Regions from separate parts of the Homo sapiens genome. Here all the other regions are linked to region 1. Evidence: fine-mapped expression QTL. A gene starts in region 1. Each other region holds a variant in brackets. All regions are shown on one strand. Distances are from middle to middle.

What was found. PIP is the estimated chance that this variant, and not a neighbour inherited with it, causes the effect.
Region 2: its variant is fine-mapped to the expression of FMNL2 in minor salivary gland (GTEx, PIP 0.91).
Region 3: its variant is fine-mapped to the expression of FMNL2 in fibroblasts (GTEx, PIP above 0.99).
Region 4: its variant is fine-mapped to the expression of FMNL2 in whole blood (TOPMed, PIP 0.99).
Region 5: its variant is fine-mapped to the expression of FMNL2 in whole blood (TOPMed, PIP 0.91).

What each region holds. Positions count from the first base shown.
Region 1 is chr2:152,332,036-152,337,142 of GRCh38, reverse strand. FMNL2 (formin like 2) reads right to left here and starts at 1,969. Exons shown (of 26, transcript NM_052905.4): 1 at 1,423-1,969. The coding sequence starts at 1,539. RefSeq lists silencers at 910-1,009, 1,520-2,169.
Region 2 is chr2:152,416,599-152,421,705 of GRCh38, reverse strand. The region is part of intron 1 of FMNL2 (formin like 2); the gene reads right to left. Among named protein-coding and RNA genes, the nearest start is that of FMNL2, 84 kb to the right of the region's middle. The variant C/T (reference allele first, on the strand shown) is at 2,370.
Region 3 is chr2:152,430,136-152,435,242 of GRCh38, reverse strand. All of the region lies in intron 1 of FMNL2 (formin like 2), which reads right to left. Among named protein-coding and RNA genes, the nearest start is that of FMNL2, 98 kb to the right of the region's middle. The variant A/G (reference allele first, on the strand shown) is at 2,785.
Region 4 is chr2:152,610,597-152,615,703 of GRCh38, reverse strand. FMNL2 (formin like 2) reads right to left here. Exons shown (of 26, transcript NM_052905.4): 11 at 4,099-4,209; 12 at 704-853. Among named protein-coding and RNA genes, the nearest start is that of PRPF40A, 100 kb to the left of the region's middle. RefSeq lists an enhancer at 3,323-3,402. The variant G/A (reference allele first, on the strand shown) is at 2,986.
Region 5 is chr2:152,620,247-152,625,353 of GRCh38, reverse strand. All of the region lies in intron 15 of FMNL2 (formin like 2), which reads right to left. Among named protein-coding and RNA genes, the nearest start is that of PRPF40A, 95 kb to the left of the region's middle. The variant G/A (reference allele first, on the strand shown) is at 1,969.

The sequences.
Region 1 (5,107 bases):
AAGCAACCTCATCTGTCTCCCCGACGGCCACACCAGAGTTTCCAGGTGGCGGGAGAGAGAGCTCAGTTCTCCCAAAGAGCACACAGCTAACCTGCCATCCAGAACATCACTTCCCATACCAAACCATTCCTTTTTCAAGGCCTGAAGGCAGGCAATTTGAACGTCCTGTAGCTGAGCACACCTCAGAAAACCGATTTTTGATCTAGAACTCGAGTCCTCTGCCAAAGTTCTAAGTTTTCATGAAAACAAAAGAAGAAAAGAAAACCCGCAGGCAGGCACAATCGTTGGCTGCCCGGATCACGAGTTTCCCTTGCTGCCTAGTCTTGTGGAGTTTAGAGGTAACCAACTAGGAAAAGAGAAGTGTCCAAGTGTCAGGAGTAGGAATGAGCCCAATCTCGCCTGTGTGTGTCCCTCCCAACATCCCTTAGAAGAGGCTGGGACACTAAAACTGGTAGTCTGGGGGACCAACAGCAGTCCAGATCCTGGCTGGGGCAAGCCGCCACACCCTCTGCAGCTCACAGCACAAGCCTCGGCTGGGAGGGGCCCAGACACTGTCCCAGCAGGAAAGGGAGAAAGAGGGGAGTTTTCAGAGTCCTGGATTTGAGGAGCTGGAAAGCTGGGAGAAGCGGAATGCAGGAGGGAGCGGGGGACCTGGCTGGGCGTGCAAGAGGAGGGGAGGGGTCGCCCGTGCAGTCAGGACAGCTCGCAACACGTCCCCGCAAAACTCCACATTTTTGTGGTTTAAGATTTAAGTCTAGAGGGAACGCGCTGAGGTTCTCCCCGGCCTGGGTTTCAGATGCCCCTGCTCCTCGCCAAGGGCCGGGGCGCCGCACTGCTGTGGGTCTCCGCTTTCCCTTTCGGGGAAGCTCCCCTTGGCCAAGCCGCGACGTGAGCCCTCCAAGTTCGCCTCCGCTCACCGCCCGGCGCGGCGCCCGCGGCCGGCCACATGCGCCCCATCTGCCGGGGACTTCGCAGGTCCCGGGCTGGCCGCCCGAGGGATGGTCCGCAGGGGCTCAGGGTGTTTTGTTTTGTTTTGTTTTGTTTTGTTTTTTTTAAAAAAAAAGCCTAAGCGGCTCGCCACCTCCTCCTCCCAGCCCGCGCCACCTTCTCTTCACGCCCACGCCGCACCTCCCGGGCACACGCGCCGTGAGGTGCCTCTCCAGCCAGACAATGGGTTCGAGGCTGGTTGGGCAGCCGGCCCTGAGCCCCCATCCCCATCCCGGGACCCCGAGAGACTGAGCGCGGGGGACTGCCAGGGGGGTGAAGAGGAGTGCTGGGGGGCCACAAAGGGGAAAGCGGGAGCCTCCCCCTCGGGAATGGAGGCTCGCTCCCGGCACGGGGTGAAGGGGAGGGGCGGGGGTCAGCTGCGCCGCCCGGCCCGGGGCCCCGGGTCCCCGCGCCCGACCGCCGCCGCGCACTTACCAGCACGATGGCAAATCGCTCCTCCAGTTCACCTGGCTCTGGCATCGGCAGCTTCAAAGGCACGTTGTGCGCCCTGAAATCGGTCTGCTGCGAATCCATGCTCCCTGCGTTGCCCATGTCGGCGGCGCGCCGGGGCCGGGGGCTGCTCCGGGCCCCTAGCGTGCGCGTCGGAAATCAGAACAGCTCCCGGCGGTCGGCTGCCGCCCGCAGGCGCGACCTGCCCGGCTCCCCGCCCTCCGCCGCGCCCAGGCGGGTGTGCGGCGCGCACCGCTCCCTAGCAGCGCTCCAAGCCGAGCCGCCCCCCGGCCTCCCTCATGCTCTCCGCCGCCCCAGCGCGGCCCCGGCCTCTTTTCCTCGGGAGGGGTAGTTGGGGCGCTGGGCGCCTATGTGCATGGTGCTCCGCTGGCACACCGCCCCCTGCCAGAGATCGCGGCCCCCGGCGCGTGGTCCCTCCTACTCGGCCTTCTGCCGGGCCCGCGGCCGCCGCTGACACTTCCAGCCCTAGCCGGCCACGGCTGCGCCTGCCTGGCTAGCACCTGGAGCAGACAAATGCAGCTCCGCGCTCCCCTACACAATGCCACCTCTCGCCCGGCGCCCGGCCCCCGCCCCCGGCCCGGCTCCGCCCACTCGCCCCGCGGACTGCCGGGACGCGTAGTTTCTCTCCAAAGTGTCCGCGCGCAGAAACCACGCCTGCTCTAGAGCGCCAGGCCGGGTTGGGACCATTTGCAGCAAAGGCGATCCGTAGTCTCTGGAGATAGCATATTGTCACTTTTGACCCTCCTCACCCCAACAGTGGAATACTTACATCGTGTATATCATGTTGACACTTGGTAGGCGGGTCTGACCATGACGGAATCGAATCAATGAATGAAGGAATGCATGCCTTCTGATTAAAATTCAGAAAATCGTTGCTGTTTTTAAAAGATCTAGTTCAGTAAGGAACTTCGAAAGCACTGGCAAAGTTCTGTTTCATAAACGGGGGGGTGGGTCCATGGGTGCTTGTTTATCGTTCTTTCTTCCATATATATGTTCTTTGGTGTGATTGAAATGTTTTATAAACAGATGTATAATTTATGGGTATATATAGTCAGACCCTAGGAGCTAGGTAAGGATTCAATTCAATTTAAAAAAAAAACCTGTCAAACACCTATTATGTATGGGATATTGTGTTCCTTGGTGGGAGAAAAAAGAGATTTGCCCTGCGCTGGAATACTTGCCAATCTAGTGAAGGAAAAAATGTACACACCCATATTTCATGTGAGATGGATATAATGATAGAGTGTTCTGGGAGACTTTGGGATGATCTTTGGCTGCAGCTCTCTTATTCCTTCACAGCAGTCTTGAGCAAGGTGTCTTACAGAAAAGATTGGACCTGACTCTGTCCTCTGGGGTGTATTTCAGACTATAACTACCCGTTCTGAAACCTCGGAAATAGAAATAGCCTTATAAGAGACTTTAGCCAACTGCTCATGTGAATGTTAAGGGCATACATCTGGTTGACTTGTGGCTGAACTTCTGCAGTTAGTCCTTTCTTAGTTTAAAGCAGTGTTTCTTAATCCTAGATGTGTATCAGATTCGCTTGGGAAGCTTTTTGTTAAAACTACACACACCTTGGGCTCTGCGTATTATCAGAATCTCCCTAAGCTGAGAGCCGAAGCCTGGGCCGGTGTATTTTCAACAAGCTCCCCAGGTGATTTTGATATGCAGGTAAGGTTGTTATCCTTTTAGTAAATAGCAAGTGTTTCTGGACAAGGTAGTACACCAAGATTCAATCAAGGACATTTCATTCATCTTTATAAACTTCAAGATACTTTAAACATAGTAGACGCCCAAGAACTATTTGTGGAATTGACAAGTGACTTTTTCCAAAAGCATATGACACAAATACACACAAATACATCATGTATGTTCTATTAAACCACTTCTAGTCTTTAAAGAATGGAGACAGTATAAATAAATTCAACTTAAAATTCTGAATAACTGTAACCTGTATTTCTAAAGCAGTGTTGTATCAAAGTTAATAGCAAATGTGTTACTGATCTGAGAGAAAAGCAGGGCGGTTTAGATACACACACACTCCAAACTAATGAAAATGAGAGAGAAAGAAAGCAGTTCGGACCAGGTGAAACATTTCTGACCCACAAATGTATTTATTTCCTTGTAATCTCTAGACATATACTTTGGATCTGATTGACTCACAAAATCAGCCCACCCAGAGGGTTGCCCATCTGGATAAAAAAGGCTGGAATTCTTTTCTGCAGTTGAGAAAGCCTTTTTGATTACATTTATGTCTCCCTGCGGCTATATTTCTGCCAGTAACCAAGACCTTTTTCTCCCCTTACGTCTTATCACATCTAGTCTCTCTCATAAGCTCACACTTCGAGGGAAGCCAAGGAAAAAGTGTGCAAATCTATGAACCAAAAGAACTTTCCTGCCATTTCAATGTTTGGAATCTCTAATATTTGGTTGTTATTTGTGATTATTAAGAGGAGAAATAAACACTCCATAGGCTTGTACAATTTCTATAAGAATCCATCAAAATCTTAGGAAATTCTTTGCGGGGAGACGGCATGGAGGGAAAGGAAAGAAAAGACATTTCTATTACCTTAATTGTAGCACTCTTCCTCCCCACAGAATTAAAATCAAGCAATCATTTAAAAATGTATATTCCATTTATTATTATTATTATATATGATTTGTTACAGCTCATGTGCAAAATATTGGCAAAAAAGAAAATGTCTGGGCCGGGCATAGTGGCTCACACCTGTAAGCCCAGCAGTTTGGGAGGCCAAGGCAGGAGTATTGCTTGAGCCCAGGAGTTTAAGACCAGCCTGGCAACATGGAGAAACTCCATCTCTAAGAAAAATGCAAAATTATTAAGAGACAAAAATGGCGAAGTATGATCTTCCAGGTACACTCCACTGGAAAAAAAAAGAAAAGAAAAAGAAAGCCAGTTGTATGGGCATGCATACAACTTCCTAAACACACTGTGTGTGCTCAATTCCCCAGGGTAAGAAGAGCACCATGCATGCAGAACGCCTACCCTAAGGGAAGAATCATGGGAAAGAGAGATGGGATCTCACTGTTGCCCAGGCTGGTCTCAAATTCCTGGCTGCCAGCTATCCTCCTGCCTTGGCCTCCCAAAGTGTTGGGTTTACAGGTGTGAGCCACTGTGCCAGTTTGATATTCTTTATAACAAAGCCTGCAAGATTTCTTCCCATACAGAATTTTCTGAAGACAACAAAGAAGCTAATTATTAATAATTGGATGCATACTATGAGATGAGAATTATATACCTTCTTCTAGACTGTCAACTTAGAACAGAATTCAGAAAACTATGCCTGTAAACCAAATCCATTCATCTGCCTACTCTTATAAATAGTTTTATCGGAACACAGTAAAACCATTTATTTACCTACTATCTATAGCTGCTTTTGCACTGCAAGGATGGAGTTGAGTTGATATGACATAGACCATATGGCCCTCAAAGCCTGAAGTTTTTACTATCAGGCCCTTTACAGAAAATGTTTGCTGATCCCTGACTCAGAAGATACTATATTTTGCAAATCGTAAGTACTATAAAGTGATATTTTTACCTATTATCTATGTGATGTAACAAAACTACCTTTAAAACCTAATGGCTTAAAATGTTTAAAAATATGCAAAAATTTTTTTAAATTTTTGG
Region 2 (5,107 bases), 85 kb before region 1:
CAGTAATCAGTAACAGGAAAGGCACTGCTGCCAACAGAATTGAATCATCTCACATTTCTCGAAGTTCCTAGGTGAATTCAGTGTCCTCTGAGAAGGCTTTGGAGAAAGCCACATGAGGAGGATTTTGGGAGGCAGAATATACAACTCTCTACTCTTAGTCATGTCTGTGCATTTCACATAGTAAGTAGCCACTCCTATATTTCCCCCTTTGCAGAGCCTGTGGATGGAGATTTACATCTCACAATTGCACTTGAGTTTCCCCAGAGAGGTTAGCACTGATTTGTTGTCCCAACACGGTTGCATGTTATTAATTGTCCAGAAACAGAATGATATGGCAATGGTGCTTAGGTTGTACCTGTAACCCTAACACTGCTGCAAATATAGTAGGATAATTAATTTGTGGTTGGTTCAAATACCTCACATTACCGGCTTTGGGATAAAACAAATTACTGCCCACAGTAAGCCATGAATTTATTTTTCAAAGACTTGAAGTCATTCATTCCACTGACTTCCTCAGAGCCAAAGATACTGACAGAAGTGTTGTACCCACTGACAAGAAAATGCCTAAAGGGGAAATGAGTTGTTAGGGTGGCGGGGCTGGGCAGGGCGTTGTTTCATTTCAGTTTTACCATTTTACCTACTAATAACAATGCTTACACAGTATTATGTGTTTCCAAAATGTCCCCACATACAAGATGCGTTGGACGGTACCCTACAATCCTTGCAGAAAGGCAAGCAACCAACGCCAGACATCTCAGGCGAATAACAGGCAAATCTGAGTCCGAAACCCAGTTCTTCCTACTCCTAGTCTTTCCTGTGCTCAATTTCATGATGCTTCTACAACTGGGATTCAGAGTGGAACTCAGTCAAGGTTTTTCCACCAGTAGGTTTGTAATAACTTACAAAGGTACCGTCACAGAAGGCACCCCCTGCAACCTCATAGTGGAGGATAAAGTCCCTCAGGTCCATTCAAATCACTTTTCTCTTTGCTTTAGTCTGCAGATCTCCACATTAATCAGTTGGGATGACCTGGGAGGCAGCTCAGTGCTGCATCTATCTGGCAATTTTTGGAATGAGATGTCGCTGGTCAGCTCCTTCCTGAAACAGAGATGAGCTCACCATTGATACCCAATGCCCCAGTGCTGAGTACCATCCTTGTCACTTCTGCCTTGTAAGATAAGCAACAATTCTCGGAGAAAGACCTTATTAAAGCCAGTACTTTCAGATCATACTCAGAAACCGATGCTTCTTTCCAAAAACTTCAGGTTCAAAAAGCAGTTACTAGGAAAGGGGTGTGACTTTTTTTCCTACTGGCATTTTAAGTAATATTCAGCTTGTACTCTTAAAAATCACGTTTACAAATGAAACTCTACAGAAAACACTTTTTAACTCAGTTCTACCAACAGTTCCATTTGGCTTACAGGCATTCTCTGTATATTCTGAAAGTTTCTATAATTTGTGGTGACCAAATTCGTCTTTTCACAAGGCATTCATTTCTGTGTCACTACTCTCTTTTAAATACTCTGGTGTTTACTAACCATACCCTGTAATCTCTGTTAATGGGGTAGTTCAAGATTCCTTTTCAAAGGCTTTTTGCTTTAATTACTGCTTTAGCCTTTTGGTAAAACTCGGCTTTTAGCAAACTGGCCTGCAGGGGACAAGTTTTTAAATTATTCTCAAGCTTTCCCTATCCCTTTCCAAGTTTTTCCAAACTACTTAAAAACCTCTCAGCCTTGAGGGAAGGATGATAAATTGGATGATTTTGCTGTCTCTGATGCCTGGCATTAGTCTTGGTTTAATCCATTTTTGTCTCACCAGAAACTTGCCTGTTACAATCGGAGTCTCTCCCATATTCTGCAGCTTCCAGCAAGTGTATTCCCTGATAAAGCTCCCCCAGAGTTCCAAAACAGGTCACAGGGAGCCCAACAGTCCTCCTGGGGTGGTCTCAGGGGCGCCTAGACACAGTTTTGCCCTGTGTTTCTCCTTTCTGTAGTGAAGCCCACATTTGGATTCTTGGTTCAAATGCTTTTCTTCAGAAAACTGGTAACTTCAGGATGGATCCCAGAAAAAAGCTATTAAAATTAGTCATTTTAGATCTCAAAAATAAATTAATTTACTCCTCCTGAGGCTTGGTACCCTTTGACCATCACGTTACCATTTCCCCCAGCCCCTGGTAACCACTCATCTACTTTCTGCCTCTATGAATTCGATTGTTTTGATCCCACATATGTAAGAACATGTGGTGTCTTTCTGTGTTTCGCTTACTTCACTTAGCATGTTTTCTAATTCCACTCATGTTGTCGCAAATGACAGAATTTCTTCCTTTTTTGAGGGCTATTCCACAGCATGGTAAATACAATAATAGCATA[C/T]TGTACATTTCGATATCACTAGGAGAAAATCTCAAATGTTATAAAAAAGTTAAATATTTGAGGTGAATAGGTTAGGTAGCTTGATTTAATCATTCCACATTGAGTTCAAACATCATTACATCACTTTGTACCCCCTTAAGTATTTGCAACTATAATTTGTCCATATATAATAAAAAACAAAAAAAGTCCTTTGAAAGGCAAAAAGAGAACATGACAAAATATTAACTGATCAAGGATGAAAAATAAGTACACTCTGTTTAAACATAGTTTTAAAAAACCTATGCATAAGTACAAATCAAAACCACAATGAGATGCTGTTTCATACCCATCAGAATGACTATTATTAAAAAAAAAAAAAAAGGAAAAGACACATATCCTTTGCAAGCATATAAGGATATGGAGGGCTCGGAACCCTCGTGCATTGCTAGGGTGCAGCAGACACCGTGGAAACAGTATGATGCTTCCTCACAAAGCTAAACATAGAATTACCATATGATTCAGCAACTCCACTTCCAGTTACATACTCAAAAGTACTGAAAGCAGAAACTTAAACAGATACTTGTAACCAATGTTCATAGTAGCATTATGTAGAATAACCTAAAGGTAGAAACAACTCATATGTCCATCAATAGATGCATAGATAAACAAAATGAGGTTTCTATCCATGCAATGGAGTATTACTGTTCAGCCTTAAAAAAGAATGAAATTCTGACAAATGCTACAACAAGAATGAACCTTACCAACATTATACTAAGTGAAATCAACCAGACACAAAAGGACACAACTTCCCTGATTCCACTTATGAGTTACATTGAATAGGCATATTCATGGGGACTGAGAAGGAGAACAGTGGTTACCAGGGGAAGGGGTGGGGGGAATGAAGAGTTACTGTTTAATGGGTAGAGAGTTTCAGTTTGGGAACATGAAAAGTTCTGGACACAGACGGTGAAGATCATTGCACCACCAACAATACAAATGTACTTAATGCCACTGAACCGTATGCTTAAAAATGGCAAGGATGGTAAATTTTATCTTAACGTTTTACCACAGCAAAAAATAAAAATTAAAAACGTGGCCAAAAAATGAAATGAAAAAGAAAATCACCATGTAAATGCAATGGACTAAGGGGTAATTTTTCTATGTTTCAATTCTTCCAAAAGAGCTGCTATAATTTTTAAAAATTAATGCATTTGCTGGGTGCAGTGGCTTATGCCTGTAATCCTAGCAGTTTGGGAGTCTAAGGCAGGCAGATTATCTGAGCTCAGGAGTTCGAGACCACCCTGGGCAACATGGTGAAACCCCATCTCTACTAAAATACAAAAAATTAGCCAGGCATGGTGGCAAGCACCTGTAGTCCCACCTACTCGGGAGGCTGAGGCATGAGAATTGCTTAAACCCAGAAGGCAGAGGTTCAATCAGCGAGATCAGTGAGCCGAGATCATGACACTGCACTCCAGCCTGGGCAAACAGAGCAAGACTCTGTCTCAAAAGAAAAAATAATAATAATAAAAATAATGCATTTACTCACACACTCACTGGTGCACAAATAAATAGGCAGGGCAGGTCAAAAATAACAGTCTGGGTTCAGTGGGAAATTTAGCTCTAACAATATGAGGCACAGAGGAGGTGAGTTACATGTCAGAGGAGCAGGCAGCAACCGTAGATGGAAGCAGAGCAAAAGGGGATATACATCAGGTGCCAGCATGTTTTCTTCCTTCTGATCTTTTGCCTCGAAAGCCAGCCTTTCAGCCTAAGCCTCAAGGCCCTGATCACCTTGGGTGATGTGCACAGATCACAGGAACACCTCAATGTAAGCAAATCCAACCTTGCAATGCCCTAGACTATTTCCTGATCCCCGCTTGGTCCCACTGTCAGCACAGCACAACAACCAACAAGGCTGTTAACCTGCCCCAAGAGTCTTACAAATCAGCAGATTCAGCTGACAGAAAGCCAAGGAATTTTCTCTCCACATCGATGTCATTCAATGAAGACTTCTGCTTAAACCAGAACCGTGAAGTTTTGTATCCGGAGACTTCAAGCACAAGTTCAACACCAACCTCCAACAGACACCTCTCAATCACTGGCCCTAAAGGAGCAGAAGGGCATCCATTCACAGATCAATGTGTGTATTTTCTAATTAGCTTAAGGAACTTTGCACATGTCAGATTTGAACGTCTATGCTACCTTATGGTTTGTTCAGGTAATTTCGTGTTCCCTAATGAGACTAGGATAAGTAATCGTGTAGAAGTTAATACAGAATTGTAATTCACTACAGATACCCACAGAGGACAACCTATGCCTGTATTGTTAAGGTTTGACTATCCAGATCTACAAATTCAAGTTGAAACTTATTTCAGCCCTCCTTGGAACAGTCCACTAATCTAGAAAACACTGGGACTATTCTTCCCGAGCAGTGAAACATCCACACAGGTTAGTAACTACAGGCTGCTCTAATTAATTACCTGAGACACAATTGGTGGATGTTAGAGTTTGTTATGTTGTTGTATTTTTAATTCCATTTGCCTACTTGATCCACATTTTCATGCCTTGGCTGTGACACTTTAGAAATTAAAACATCCCAATAGTGTATAATTAAAAGTTAAATATAGCAGCTACAATCTAATTTCATTGAAAGTCTCCTCCAAATCACAGAAGTGCCACTGGCCTGGCCTGGCTAGAAGTCAGCATGGACAACTCTAGATTCAGGCACTTTCAACTGTGATGCATTTGTAAAAGCT
Region 3 (5,107 bases), 98 kb before region 1:
CCCAAAGTGCTGGGATTACAGCAGTGAGCCACCATGCCTGGCCTCATTTTCCCTTAAACAAGTGTGTGAAGAGAGCAAGGTGAGGGGTGTACATGTATGTACAGGTATCTGAGTCAAAAAATTTAGGCCATATGAGTCCAATGCCTCCAGAGAGAGATTAAATATAAGAATACCTTCTAGACTGTATCTCTGATCTCTCTGCTTGAGACTTTGACCAATGCTCCAAAGCTCCTTGGCCATAAACCATGCCATCTAGATGTTGAGTGCTAGAGCCTGCTGGACATTACTGAGCACATGTTTGTGGACTCTAGATGTGAAAAACAAACATTTGGGTACACTGCTCTGAGGGGCCATCCCAGGGATTAGTATCACATTAATGCTAATTCTGCAGCTGGCCCTGCCAAAGAATTCCCACCCAAGTCCTGGCCCTGGAACTCTGAATAAGTAGCTTAAGCTTCCGCAAAGTAGCATGAATAATTAAAGGAGCTAAGCCTACCTGCCTAATTAGAGCCAATAACAAACAAATCAGCTATCTAAAAACCAATTCTCAGCCCTCTGGGGCAAGCAGGAGTAGGCCAGTTAAAAAACTTACTGCTGTGTTCTGCAGGGGCCCTTCTGCATGGGGGGAAGACCCTGCCACCACAGCACCCTGCCTTACCATGGTGCCACCTAATCACTAATCACTTCACAGAAACTAAAATCAGGGGCCAGCTGGGATCCAGCTTATGTCCAAGCCAAGGAAGCACTCAAGTTTTTGTGTGCTGGATAAGATGCATGAGATCAAATGTCTAATTCTTAGACCTAGCTTGGTTCAAAAGGATTAAAACCTCAAATTCAGATTTAGCTGCAACTAGAAACATAAACCCCAAACACAGTTTTCAAAGGGCCACCAGGTCATATGCAATGCTAATGCCTTTATTCCTCCATACCCCCTGCCATTTGTAAATTTTACATGGGCCTGACCTAACGTGGAAATTCACCGTGCATACTTTCCTGCTGTAGCTGACAGTCTGCACAAAACTTGTCTCTCTGACTCCCTTCCCTGTTGCTCTAGGTCAGAGTGTATTTTGTAAATGGTTACTATGCTAATTACTAAGCAACTTTCAATAATTTGAAGAGTCCTTCTAAAAAAATTCAATGGAATAATTACAGTTAAATTTTCTACTACTCAGTTTTGCCCTACCCAGCCAACTTTCCCCTCATAAATGTCCTTCTGTTTCTACTCAAAATGGGCTTTCTCCTTGCATGACATTAATAGTACCAGTTTCCTCTATCACGTTAATAATAATTCGTTGTTTGGCCTTGCATTTGAGATTTTCAAAGCTACAGGAAAACAGGGCAGGACAAAGATTTTCTCCAGACTACATCAGACTGATTTTCCCCCACTGCTGTCTGCAGAGCCTTTTCTTTAGAAGGTTGGGGCCAATTATGGGGGAAGAACTAGAAGAAATCAGTAATAAGAAGAAAAGGAAATGTTGGCCTGCTTTATCCCTCAGCCTCTGATCACAGCTCATATTAGTAAATAGTCACAGCCAACCTAAGGTGGTGACAAGTTTTCCCCAAGGACCTCCAGGCCATTATTCTCACCCCATTTACTTTGTCCAGCTGTTCCTCTGTCATCTCTCACCCAAGCACTGTGTCCAGGGGCATGCAACTTTACATTCAGACCAACCCTGATGTCCACGGTAGACTACATTAAGAGTTGACTCACTAGGCAACAGAAAAGACTTCCCATTCTCAAGCTCACCCAGAGTCCAGTGGTGGGAAGAGAAGAGAAGTTGGGTTGATTTTCTATCCTCCAGAATAATGCCAACTTCCTTTGTCCACTTTTAAGTCTTCTGCTCTACAAACACATGGTAACCTAGATGACTTCTCCCCTAAAATGAGCTGCCACAAACAAGAGCACATCATTTCTGTAAGACAACCTACACTCTTGCATACTGTTATTTTGCAATAGTTGAAACGCAGTGAATTGTAAGTGCTAATAAAATTATTCTCATATTCTTTTTCTGATCCTCTGCTTGATGGCACACAGCAATTTCCCTTTCCTTCATTAGTTAGTTCCAGGGCCTCCTGTCCTTGAATAAAGATTTAAGAATGTGCTCTTGTGATATAAAATTAAGTGGCCTACCATTTATTCAGCGCCTATTAGGTCCTGGATCAGTTCTGGGAAATGACAGATAGATAAATACCTCCTCATTTAATGCTAACAGCTCCATGAGGTAAGCGCTGCTAGTATAGAGCAGAGGCAGAACTCAAGCCCGGGTCTGCCTGACTCCAAAGTCCATGTCAATGCCTGCCATGCAACCTGAAAACTTCTTTTGAAGCCAGCTCTCAGGAAATGAATCCTGGAGCTTCTCCTGTATTATCCTACGCTGCAAAGCCAGCTCTCAGGAGATGGATCCTGGAGCTTCTCCTGTATTATCCTACACTGCAGGACTATCAGGGAGTACCTCCAATGTTGTCTTACTCATCTTTAAAATTTGTTAGAGTCCCAAGAAAGGCTACAGTTTAATTAACGGCCCCCTATGCCAATTCAACCTCAGAAGGAACATCCAAAGACTTGAGTTTATTTATAACAACTGACAGAAGGTCTACTTGCAATGGCAGGGAAGTCTATCCTCAGAATAAATTTGCCTTTCTCCAGGCTAAAGGTCACACAAGGTACAAATTTAGAGCTTTGGACGGCCATCTGCTGATGCATCTGGAAACAAAGGGAGGAGACAGGAAAGGAACGGGAGGCAGCCAAATCCCCTCAGATGTCTCACTAGGGTGTGTGTGTGC[A/G]TGCATGTGTGTTTCCTGGTGCATCTTTAGAACAATACTGTAAATTAGGATGGGTGTATCAGACCTTAAGAAAACTGGCATGATTCTTTCACAATGCTTCCGCTCTGCTTTGAATTATTGCAAAATCAGAGAATGATTGAATCATGATGTCAAGCTTTCACATGCTCAATCCACACAGGCAATGCCAGAATGGGAGCAAAGTGGAAATGAAGACAGAATCATCTGAGACTGTTAAAAAAAAAAAGAAATGCAACCAACCACCAGTCCCCTATTTATGAGGAGAAAACACATATTCAGCCTGTGGGCCCATTTTTCTTTTACATAGATATTAGCCAAATACTGAAAACAATCACATAAACCACATTTCATAAAATTGTATGTGTATATACACATACACACAGATAACAGAGAGAGGAATAAAATATTTTCTCAAAAATCTTCAGAATCCTTCTCAAGATTTAAATTTTCAAATCTTTTTTTTTTTTTTTTTTTTAAAGATAGGGTTTCACTCTGTTGCCCAGACCAGGAGTGCAGTGGTGTGATCACAGCTCACTGCAGCCTTGACCTCTCTGGCTCAAGCAATTGTCCCAGCTCAGCCTCCCAAGAAGCTGGGACTACACGCATGTGCCACCATGTCTGTCTATTTTTTATTTTTTGTAGAGATGAGGTCTCCCTATGTTGCCCGGGCTGGTCTCCAACTCCTGGACTCAAGCAATCTTCCTGCCTCAGCCTCCCAAAGTGCTGGGATTACAGGCATGAGCCTCACACTGGGCTCAGATTTCATCTTTAAAACAGACACGCGGCACATTAATTTCTTCTATTTGGTCAAGGTACTCCAAGTTTTATGTAACAACACAAATTAGGGCACTTTAACATAAAAATGATATATTTGATGTTTTAGTGACTGCAATACAAAATCACAATGGTTTCAAAAACATGTTGCTATTTTTTCAGCAGCTAGAATGAAATGTGTTTCATCTCATAATGTGATCCATAAAGAAGTTAATCTTTTTCCATTTGCTGAAAAGCTGAGCCTTTTGGATTAACCATGTACATGCAACCAGTTGGTAAACAAAACACATTTTAAACTTTTGGTTACTAAGACATTGATAAATAATCCCAGATTAACTCAATTTCTCTGAAGTCTAATTTTCAAAGTTTTCACACCATTATCATAATTGAGCCTTATAATAAGCCTATGAGGGTAGGGATTATTTTCTCCATTTTTGGAGGAAGCAACAGAGAATTAATATTCAAGGAAGATGATTTAAAGCAGTGTTTCCTAAAGATAGTCTCTTTTTTCCTTTGTGTGAGAAAGAAAGTAACAATTGGCCTTAAAAAGAACCATTATTCTCAAGATCCCTGCAGAAAACAGCGAACAAAAAGTCAGCTGAGCATTTGGCCCCAAAAGTCATTCTGCCCCTTGTAAAGCAAAACACAATCATTCAAAACAGATGCAAGGCAATCTTGGAATTACATTTTTTAATGGTCCACTTTTAAACATCAATCAGCAAAAATAAAAAGGGGGGAGGGGAGGGCATAATTCCAGAATTTGCTGAAATAAACATATATATATATATATTTTCGAGACCAAGTCTCACTCTGTCACCCAGGCTGGAGTGCAGTGGCATGATCTTGGCTCACTGCAACCTCCACCTCCCGAGTTCAAGCAATTCTCGTGCCTCAGCCTCCCCAGTATCTGGGACTACAGGCACGTGCCACCATGCCCCGCTAATTTTTTGTATTTCAGTAGAGACGAGGTTTCACCATGTTGCCCAGAGTGGTCTCGAACTCCTGAGCTCAGGCAATCCGCCCACCTCGGCCTCCCAAAATGCTAGGATTACAGGCGTGAGCCACCGTGCATGGCCTGAAATAAATCTTTAATCAACCTTTAAAGAAAGAGATGAATGGAAGTGAAAGTAGGTATATAAACATTAACTTGCATTACAATGTTCACGTCTTCAACGTACCCCATAGGCCTGGGCTCTAAGGCATGCAGAAGGCCATTAGAAAATGATATTTCACTCATCTCCAATTAAATGAGTTAACACACCTTCAGCACAATGTTCATTTTGCCTATAACAGAACATTAATAAAGAGAAGAGAAAAGGTGAGTGTGCACACAAGGGCACGTTGGCAACCCACTGCTGTCTGTCAAGGAAGAGACAAAGGATAGCCTGGTCGCAAGTTCTAAAATGGACTAACGTGAGAACTCATTTCCAAAACTCAAGCACAGTACAGTCTCTTGACTTCCACATAGAAAATGAAAACCACTTTATTTTGCAAGTGAAGGGATAATTAGTCATAATTTGATAAAACCAGT
Region 4 (5,107 bases), 280 kb before region 1:
GCACCATTTTTCTGTTAATTCTTTTACTACTGAAATATGTGGTTAATGAATGAACAAATAATCTCTAAAGGCCCTTAGAGTCATATTCAAATCAGTCTATGGCAAGAAAAATCCCTCAAAGAAAAATGAGACCCTGTCCTGTGATAGAGCTGACAACGATACTGAGGACATTCTTCAAAGAACAGGATATATGAGAAAGCACACCGATGTCCTTGAAAATGCCTATTGTTGAAATGACTCTATTAAGAATTTGAGTACCGTAAGACAGGAATGTTCAGACATGCATCACAGAGACACCAGCTAATCCTGTCCATGGGTTTGTGTGGACATAGTTGATAAGAAGATACCTCTTCGCCTCAGGCCAAATTCTCATATTTAATTTCCCTCTAATCATTTACGTAATGCCAATCATCAAACACCCCCACTCTGCTTGAGCCTGTAAGCAAGACTGCCAGGAAATGCACCTCAGCAGAAACTGAGCAGGTAAGTGAGCTAAAGCAAAGCAACAGATTCTATTTCATTTTACATAACACATCTGCTTTTTGGAAAAAACACAGAACAGCTTCTGATAGCTCTCTCTTGCAGGGTATGGCCTATTCCTATACTCCAAATCCTTAAATTTACCACCATAAAAGCTGACATTAATTCTGCTTTGCAACCAGCTGAAATGTAAGCAATTTTTCCTTTTCTGAGATATAGTTACATGAGAAATGTTTTCTTCCAGTTCTTCCACCCTCTCCAAGGCAGCATTCTTAGTTTCAGCATCTTCCAGTAGAGCTCCTACATCAAAAACATTGTCCAGGTAAGCCTGGATCTGGACTTGAAGCTTGTCACTCTCAGTGTGTTTCAGCTTCTAAAAACCAGAATAGGAGAGAACGTGGTGTTAGCTCATCTATGGAAATAGAACATCATTTCCTAAGAGTCTGTCTTTTTTGTTTTTTGTTTTGTTTTGTTTTGTTTTGAGATGGAGTTTCACTCTGTCACCCAGGCTGGAGTGGAATGGTATGATTTCAGCTCACTGCAACCTTCACCTCCTGGGTTCAAGCGATTCTCGTGTCTCAGCCTCCCAAGTAGCTGGGATTACAGGCACGCGCCACCACACCCAGCTAATTTTTGTATTTTTAGTAGAGACGGGGTTTCACCCTGTTGGCCAGGATGGTCTCGATCTCCTGACCTCGTGATCCACCCGGCTCAGCCTCCCAAAGTGCTGGGATTACAGGCGTGAGCCACCACACCCAGCCAGTCTATGTGTTTTCTTTTCGACAAATAGTCCAGCCCTTTCCAAGAGAGCTTAACATGTCATCTTCCTTAAGAGAATTATGGAGTGACTGCCTAAGCAGTATCATCAGATGACTTTCGGGTGAATACGCTCTCCCAAATGCACACACATTTTCCCCCAAATCCTTACTGCCCCATGTAGTTATATTCCTATGTAAAACATTTTGATATACATGAAATTGGGACAACAGAAAAATTAAAAGCAGCTTTAACAGGTTATAGTCATGGCCACATAAAACCTGAGGGGTATCTGTGTAGTGGAAAAGACTGGAGTGTTTGGTATCTTACCTGGTTAGTTACAGTGGTTCCAGTAGGGGAAGAAGGTTAGGCGAGAGGTGGGGCAGACACTGACAGAGTTTATACTTAGCCTTGGGGATTATTTTAGCACAAATTGCTAGAGCCCAACCTCCACACATCCCTCCCTAAGTCAGTATACAGCATGAACAGCTCAGGGCTCCCCAAGGCAGATCAGAAAGCTTTCCCCAATTCACTGCCTCCCAAACTAGGCATCCTGCAGGGACTCAGCTAGCTCTGGAAATTAGAGGTCAAATAAATCAGTGAATCTTCCCTACAAGTAACATAAGTCATGACTTTCCCTGGGGAACAGATGAGTGATTAGAATAATACCTGGTGCATGGATGATGCCAATCAACATTTATTGAACAAATCAATGGCTACTTACAAGGCTGGGTTTTTGTAAACTAGTGAAGCATTTATATAGCATACATTTACATTACTCTTCTAACCACCTCTATTAGGTTCCAGAGTCAACACATGATGAAGTTAAAGAAATACAGAGTTTTGACAAAAAATCTTACATTTTTAAGAGAAATTCCACTCTACATAAATTTTCAGAAAAATGGATTTTCCCCTAGGTTTAATCTGGAATTCTACAATACAGCTTATTCTGAAGAGAGAGTGTTCTGTTTTCATTTATGAGTCACAAGTGAGAATGGCTTCTAAATAAGGGCAAAGGCTAGAACAAAAGGAGAAGCAGCTTAATGGGATTTTTCATGAGATTCACAATGAATAACAGGTGTTCAGTGATAAGTGGGTACCTGCCGTTATATTCTACAGCATAAACAAGCTCTGCTCAGACACCACAAAACCAAACCCAAAACACCGCTAGGAATTTATACATCCAATTTTTGTTCAAATACTGATACTTTTAGAGCATAGGAGAAAAAGGGATAGACAAACCTTGATCTCAAAGTAAGAAAGAGTCTTTCTGTACAATATTCTGCCAGTGATATAAATGAGCCTTTAAATAAAAAGGAAAGCAATTCAAACAACATTTTAATGGAAATCTATTACGCCTCTCCCTGAGTAGTCTTTAGACAACAGTAGGCCCATCTATTCAAGGGCAGCCCAGCCAGTCTAGGAAGCAAGGCCTTCAGGTTGAGAGTAACCACCTCTGTGATTCCGTCTCCTAATAAACTGAGGGTACAGTCTGTGCAATCCCTTGGGTTTATCTCTAACAAAGATGGGCAACTGAATTCCTGAGATGCCCAAAGGAAGTACTTCTATATTCTTCACAGCTGGAAACAGGCTTGAAATTCAGGTCACCGGCTGGGTGCATTACTTGAGGCAGGAGTATGAGACTAGCCTAGCCAACATGGTGAAACCCAGTCTCTACTAAAAATACAAAAATTAGCCAGGCATAGTGCCTGTAATCCCAGCTATTCAGGAGGCTGAGGCATGAGAATC[G/A]CTTGAACCCAGGAAGCAGAGGTTGCAGTGAGCCAAGATTGCACCACTGCACTCCAGCCTGGTTGACAAAGTGAAACCCTGTCTCAAAAAAAAGGAAGGAAATTGAGGTCAACAATTCTTGCTCTATCACTAGACCATTCCTATACAAAAGGGAAAACAAAACTGCCTGGATCCTCAGGTCCACTTCTTTTCCGTTTTAGACACAGGGTCTCGCTCTGCCACCCAAGCTGGAGTGCAGTGGTGCAATCACAGCTTGTTGCAGCCTAGAAATCCTGGACTCCAATGATCCCCCCACTTCAGCTTCCCAAGCAGCTGGGGCCACGGGCACATACCACCACACCTGGCTAATTTTTTGGTGTTTTGTATAGATGGGGTCTCACTATGTTGCCTAGCCTGGTCTTGAACTCCTAGGCTCAAGTGATCCTCCACCTCAGCCTCCCAAAGTGCTGGAATTACAGGTGTGAGCCATCAGCCTTTTCAAGACCATTTCTGATTTTCACAAGTTTCTGTTTCTTAACTGAAGAACTTCAGGGAACTGGCTAAACTCTTCTGCAAGGGAGTGAGAAAAAGGGAAACTTTAAACCTCCTTCTCCTAAGAACTAAAAGTGGAACTTCTAAAGCCACAAACACTTGAAGCAGAATTTAGCAGCTTCAGGAGGAAGTCTCTGGTGTCCATTTCCTCATTATTTTTTTTTTATGCTCTAAGCACTGACTCATCACTCTACAGTCTTGGCTTGACTTTCTCTGCCCAGATGGGGTCCCCGGAGTAACCAAGAACACAAATTGCCCAATAGCCCAGATGAAGGATGCAATGAGACTTGACCCAGATGAAGCTCAAAAGGAGAGGAAAGCTGCAGCAAGGCTGCAAGAGGTTATCTGACTCCCGTACTAAAAGGCTGCTAGCAGAAGATGACCTGAGATCCCAGGAGCCCTGCAAGAATCCAGCATCTCTGGCAGAGTACATCACTCAGCTCAGTTCCCTTTAACTAGCACTACAGTAGTTGACTGCATAGAGCTTTAGGCATTCTTTAGCTGCTATGGAAGCGTACCTTTGAGGGCAGGCAATAATAAGTCAATTCTTATATTGGAGCCAAAGGTCACAGCTATACTCACGTCCAAGTATTCGTCCAGGCCTAATTTGGTAAATTCATACTGCAGGTGAACTCTGAAATTCATATCTTCTACTGAATGGACTACAATATTAATAAACTGCATAGAAGCCACCTGAAATGAAATTGTCAAGGGGTTAGATGGGCTCCAAACTTTTTTCTCAGTTTAACTGCAGACATGTGCTTTCAATTTCATAAAAAAGGCTCACTTACCGATTTCCTTTTCCTTCATTTCATTGGTTCTTTAAAAATATATATATGGTTTTTTTTGGAAATGGAGTCTTGCTCTGTCGCCCAGACTGGAGTGCAGTGGCATGATCTCGGCTCACTGCAACCTCCGCCTCCTGGGTTCAGGCGATTCTCCTGCCTCGGCCTCCCGAGTAGCTGGGATTACAGGCAGGTGCCACCACGCCCAGCTAATTTTTGTATTTTTAGTAGAGATGGGGTTTCACCATGCTGGCCAGGCTGGTCTCAAACACCTGACCTCGTGATCCGCCGGCCTGGGCCTCCCAAAGTGCTGGGATTACAGGCATGACCCACTGCGCCCGGCCTCTTTAAAAATATTTTATACTTATTTTTAAATTCAAAAGTCACAGAGGTACCACAATAAGACACCACTTCGCACCCACTCAGATGGCTATAATAAAAAAGAAATACAGTAACAAAAGTTGGGAAGGATATGGAGAAATTAAAACCCTCATCCATTGCTGGTGGTAATGTAAAAAAGGGTGGCCACTTTAAAAAGTGTGACTTTTACTCAAAATGATAAACACAGCATTATCATATGACCCAGCGATTCCGCTTCTAGATATACAGTTAAGAGAAATGAAAATATACGTCCACATAAAAATCTTTACACAGATGTTCAGAGTAACATCATTAATAACAACCAAAAAGTAGAAAGAAGCCAATGTCCATTAATCGATAAACAAAATGTGGTATATCCAAACAATGGAATATTATGAAACCATAAAAACCAATAAATTACCAACACATGTTACAACGTGATCTTG
Region 5 (5,107 bases), 290 kb before region 1:
GACACTTTGACACTGGAGGAAGGTTGGCAAGAGGCGCGCAAGTAGGTTTTTAAAGCTGGAAAACAACACACATGGCCTTGGCCAGAGCCATTTGAGGTCATCATTTGGTTGACTAACACATCATTGTATTAAAAGACGTCTTAAGGGCCAAGGGTTGATTTTTTTTTTTCTTTTAACTCAGGCAACTAATTTGCTGCATTACAGTTACAATATTAGGACAATGGTTGGGACAAATAAAAAGTGTTGGAGAGCAAAGATTATTACTCATGTTACTAGATAGCAGAGAGGGCAAAAACTTGCCATATTTGGACATCCTAAATTCTTGGTTGCAGACCACATGTTTACAAACAAACCTTAGAAGATGATCAGGGACTGCAGACAGTGGCTGACTAGACTACCAGAAGTACAACGTCATGAAGGCTGACTTCCTGTGGGTGATTCCGATAATGAAGATATATTGGCTGCTGGGTTATTTCAAGCAGACTAAGGGATATGAATGGCCTAAATGAGAAAATAGGTTTTGAGGTCTTGCTCTGTCACCCGGGCTGCAGTGCAGTGCCGCAATCATGGCTCGCTGCAGCCTTGACCTCCCAGGCTCGGGCAATCCTCCCACCTCAGCCTCCAAGTAGCTGGAACCACAGCTGTGTGCCACCATGCCTGGCTAATTTTTATATTTATTGTAGAGACAGAGTTTCACATGTTGCCCAGGCTGGTCTCAAACTCCTGAACTCAAGCGAGCTTCCCCACTCGGCCTCCCAGAGTGCTGGGATTACAGGCGTGAGCCATCTTGCCCAGCCTAAGAAAATGTTTAAGACAACAGAGTGAAAAAAGGGGTACATACAGACCAAGACTCTGTCTTAAAAATAAATAAATAAAAGGGGCGGGGGGGAAGGAAAAGAAATTGCTGGGCGTGGTGGCTCAAAGTCCTAGCACTTTGGGAGGCCAAGGCAGGTGGATCACCTGAGGTCAGAAGTTCAAGACCAGCCTGGCCAACATGGTGAAACCCTGTCTCTACTAAAAATACACAAATTAGCCAGTTGTGGTGGTGTGCACCTATAATCCTAGCTACTCGGAAGGCTGAGGCAGGAGAATCGCTTGAACCCGGGAGGCAGAGGTTGCAGTGCACCGAGATCACGCCATAGCACTCTAGCCTGGGTAACAAGAGCGAAACTCCATCTCAAAAAAGAGGAAGGAAGGGAGGAAGGGAGGAAACTCCTCTTTTTTGAGATGGGAAGGAAGGGAAGGGAAGGGAGGGGAGGGGAGGCGAAGGGAATTGAGTGGAGGGGAGGGGAGGGGAGGGGAGGGGAGGGAAGGGAAGGAATTGTATGGATTCTCAGACTCAGAAATAGCCACAGTCCCTTGCCCTTCATTTTGAAAAGCAAGTTCTTCCCAGGAGTCAGCTGTGTTTGACTAGGAGGTATCTACACACTCATTAAAAATACTGAAAACCTCTTAATAGAGAGAATGGGATGTATCTTTAAGGGACTATGGGGAGTGCCAACTCCTCTCACTGTGCGGGAATATGCCAAAAAAGGTAATCCATTTAAAATTATATTTATCTATTATATATCATAAAGAAGTCTTCCCAAACCATTTAGCCATACACATTCAGCTTCGTCAGTCTGTTCTGGGTAGCCTACCACACTACTTGGGAGCTTCACTATTTGTCATTATTAGCAAGACAGGGAGGAGAACTTCAGCGCTTCAGTGCAGAACAAAATAAAAGCAACACACGACTAAGCTTGTAGCTGGCTGCCTGCCTGCCTGCCTCAGTTGGCGTTAACTGAGACAGACAGTGCCTCTCATTCCTCCAGAGTTACAAAGGCCATTTAAACAGCAGGAATGTCATCTGATAAATCCACACAAAAGCATGCAGAAAAACAGACACAGCTTTAGCCAAACCAGGCCTCTCCACCACCAAACATGACACCTTTGTCCCCACTACGCCACAGTGTCAGATTCCTCACC[G/A]TACAGCATTTTGTCTACGCTACCCAGGAAAACAGATGTTCTCGATGGGACAAAGGAACAGACTTTCCTCTAGCACTTGCCCTAGCATTGCCTCTGGCACTTCGGCAATGTTAGGGATCTGGGGAGCAGCAGAAGGGCCGCAGAGGAGTCTTTTCATAACCTGAGGTGACAGGTTGGTGCCAATGGCGTCCTACCTTCCTCCCACAGACATGGTAGGCTCATGACGCTCGCTAGAAGTTTGCCATTTGCAACCACCCTTCTAACTATTTAGCAAGGTCAGGAATAAGCCTGAGATCAGAACACAGGCAAGAAAGTTCTCCTCCTTGGAAAGGTTTTCCTGGCTTTAACCAGGGTGGGAGTGGGAAGAGGAGGAAAGCACATAGGTGACCACTGGACACACTGTGTCCCCATGGCTCGGGCTAAAGGCGGGTGAGTGCTCCCTGGAGTGGGCCAGAGACCAGCATGAGGGAGGGAATGGAAAAGGGGCACCTGGCACCTTTTTTTTGTTCTTAGAGTTGAAGTCTCAGATACAAATATAAAAATTAAAAGAAGAAGAAGAAAAAAAAAAAAAAACCTTTTCTCAGAGGAAATGGAAGAGGGCATATGAATCCAGGATGTCTGCTTCAAGGACAATAGTCTCTTATGTAGGTTCAACTAGAATGTGTGGGCAAACCTGGAATCATCATCAGCCACCACCAAGACTTCCCGCAGACACAAAGTCAAAATGCAATGGATCAAAGCAAAATGGAGTGGAAAGATGTCAAGGCACAGTGTGACCAACAGAAACACATGGCAAATACTCAACACACTCAGTGAGGAGCAACCTACAGAAAAGCTTGATTGGCCCATCTTTTGTGGAAGCAGAAAGAACAGAGAAAATACAAAAAAAATTAGATATGGTTAGAGTCAAGTGGCTCAGCAGTTCACGCACTCAGCATAGAATTTCATGCTTCTTGGACACATTTCACAAGGCGGCACAGAGCCAAAAATTCATTTCCATTCAGGCCTGCCTCCAAGACTCAACTATTTCATTTTTAAAATTATCCTTTTTAGAAGAGGGAAGAAAAAAATTATTTCATCGTAGTGGTACCAAACAGCAATACTGAACTGTGCTAGGCATTCCATAGGATAGGAATAATTTTTACATGAAAAACAATCAACCAAAGTCCAAATTCGCATTGTGAGGATCCGAGCACATCCTCCCAGACAGACGGCAAAGGTTCCACCTGCTCAGCAGCCTGTCTCAGGTGACCTACCGGGGGAAAGGGAGCCAGGTTGTTCTATCACAGACTTGAGAGGAAGGAAGCCTTCTTCTTCAAATGCATATTTCACACTACTACTATTTTCTCTATAAAATACAAAGAAAACTCTCAACTAGATAAACTATGGGGCTCTCCTCTTGGTCTTCTGTCTTGGTCTCCAAGAACACACCTGCCCATTGAAGAGATAAGACCCTCGTGTTGCCTGTGGGTCCAGAGGCCAAGTGATGTCATAGGTTTCTGACTTCCCAGGAGGCTTCAGAATATTAGCTCAGCTCTGTCTCTTCATTCTACTGGGCATCCTGATTCTGTCTGGCCTCTTGGTTCCAGAGTGAGAGAGAGAGTTACTCAACACACTAGCAAAACATCTCACCAAATGGGCTTCAATCACTAAGAATTAACAGTCTAAATAAGGATGAATAATAAAGAAAGATTAAAGGCCTTGGAGAAATTGCCTGATCTCGAGCTATCAAAGACTCACAAGGATCTTATAATGCTTCCAAGACATCCCTCACAATCATTTAGTGGACACTTATGGAAATAAAGAGTTCCTGTATTCCCACCTACAGTCCTCTAAATTGCATGAGCCACAACAGGGACCACTTCCAAGTATAGCAAACCCTAAAAGCAGTTGGTTATCAGCCAAGCACAGAGCTCTACACCTTAAAATATTGAGGCAATTGACAGAGCCAACACATTTTTAAAATCAAGTAGTGGGAAGAACCCAAGCAAAACAATTAATAAATAGATCAATCACACAGGACATGGCCCCTTGGAAGGAAGCTCTAGACACATCTCAGCCTCTGGGCTCTCACTCGGCTAAGGCGGTTCTGAGGTCTATGTTAGTGCTCAGGTGCGTGGAAGTGGGTGCTAAATCACACATCAGCGTTTGTCAGAGACAAAGGAAGCAGCCCCAAATGAGATACCACAGCAGACACATCTCACAGCAAGTGCGCCTTGGGGGCTACCAAGAGTGCCTAATCAGGGTGGCCAGGTGCACGGGACGATAATGGGTTTCCACACCCAGTTACTGACAACAGCCTGGTGATGGAACACATTCCCGGGGCTTGATATGAGGTTTCTTGTTTGTCTGTTTATATTCCATAGTCCATCAGTTCCACGATGACTCTGCTCCAACTTTTCTCCTTCAGAAGTAATAAAAGTTCTAGAAGAAAGTGGTAGACGGGGAAGATCTTGAAGGGTAGAAATAAGTCACCGATTTACTGTGGACCTTACTGTGAACTGGAATCTTGTTTCCCTGACAGTTTTATATAGAAGTCGGGGTGGAAGTAAAACCATGGATTTGATGTGGAGTGAATTTATTCTAGGTGACTCTGGGGCATCCAAAAGGGCTCCAGTCATTGGGATGAATGAGCCCCAGTGACCGGCTGGCAGAGCTGCAGATGGGATCCTGGAAGGGATGGAGATTGGGAAATCTTTACAGCTAAGACTGGCTTTTAGACTTTGGGCAAAAGGCTCTGAGAACTATCACAGCCTTGGAAATGGAGGCTATTAGAGTGGTAGTTCTTTATTGTAAATAAGAGACCTCATGAACAGGCTGAAGTAAATGAGGAGGCAGAATTACCCCACGTCACAGGGATGGCAAAGCTTAGAGCAATTCCAGATGCCAGGGAAACACTTCAGGACTGAGAAAACGGCTCGTAGCGTCATCTTTGTTTCCGTGAGTCAAAACAAAGAGCTTAGATTTCAAGGCATTAGAGTGACTCTTCCTCCTGCTCTAACCCCTACCTCCCATTTTATTTCTGGTGAGGTGAGGATGCTGTTTTCTATCTTCTGGTTGGCAAGAGGACATGAATTATTTGGCAGCATTTTAAGGCATGATAATACGGCTGTTGGCAGCACTTCCTCCTTGAAGTTTA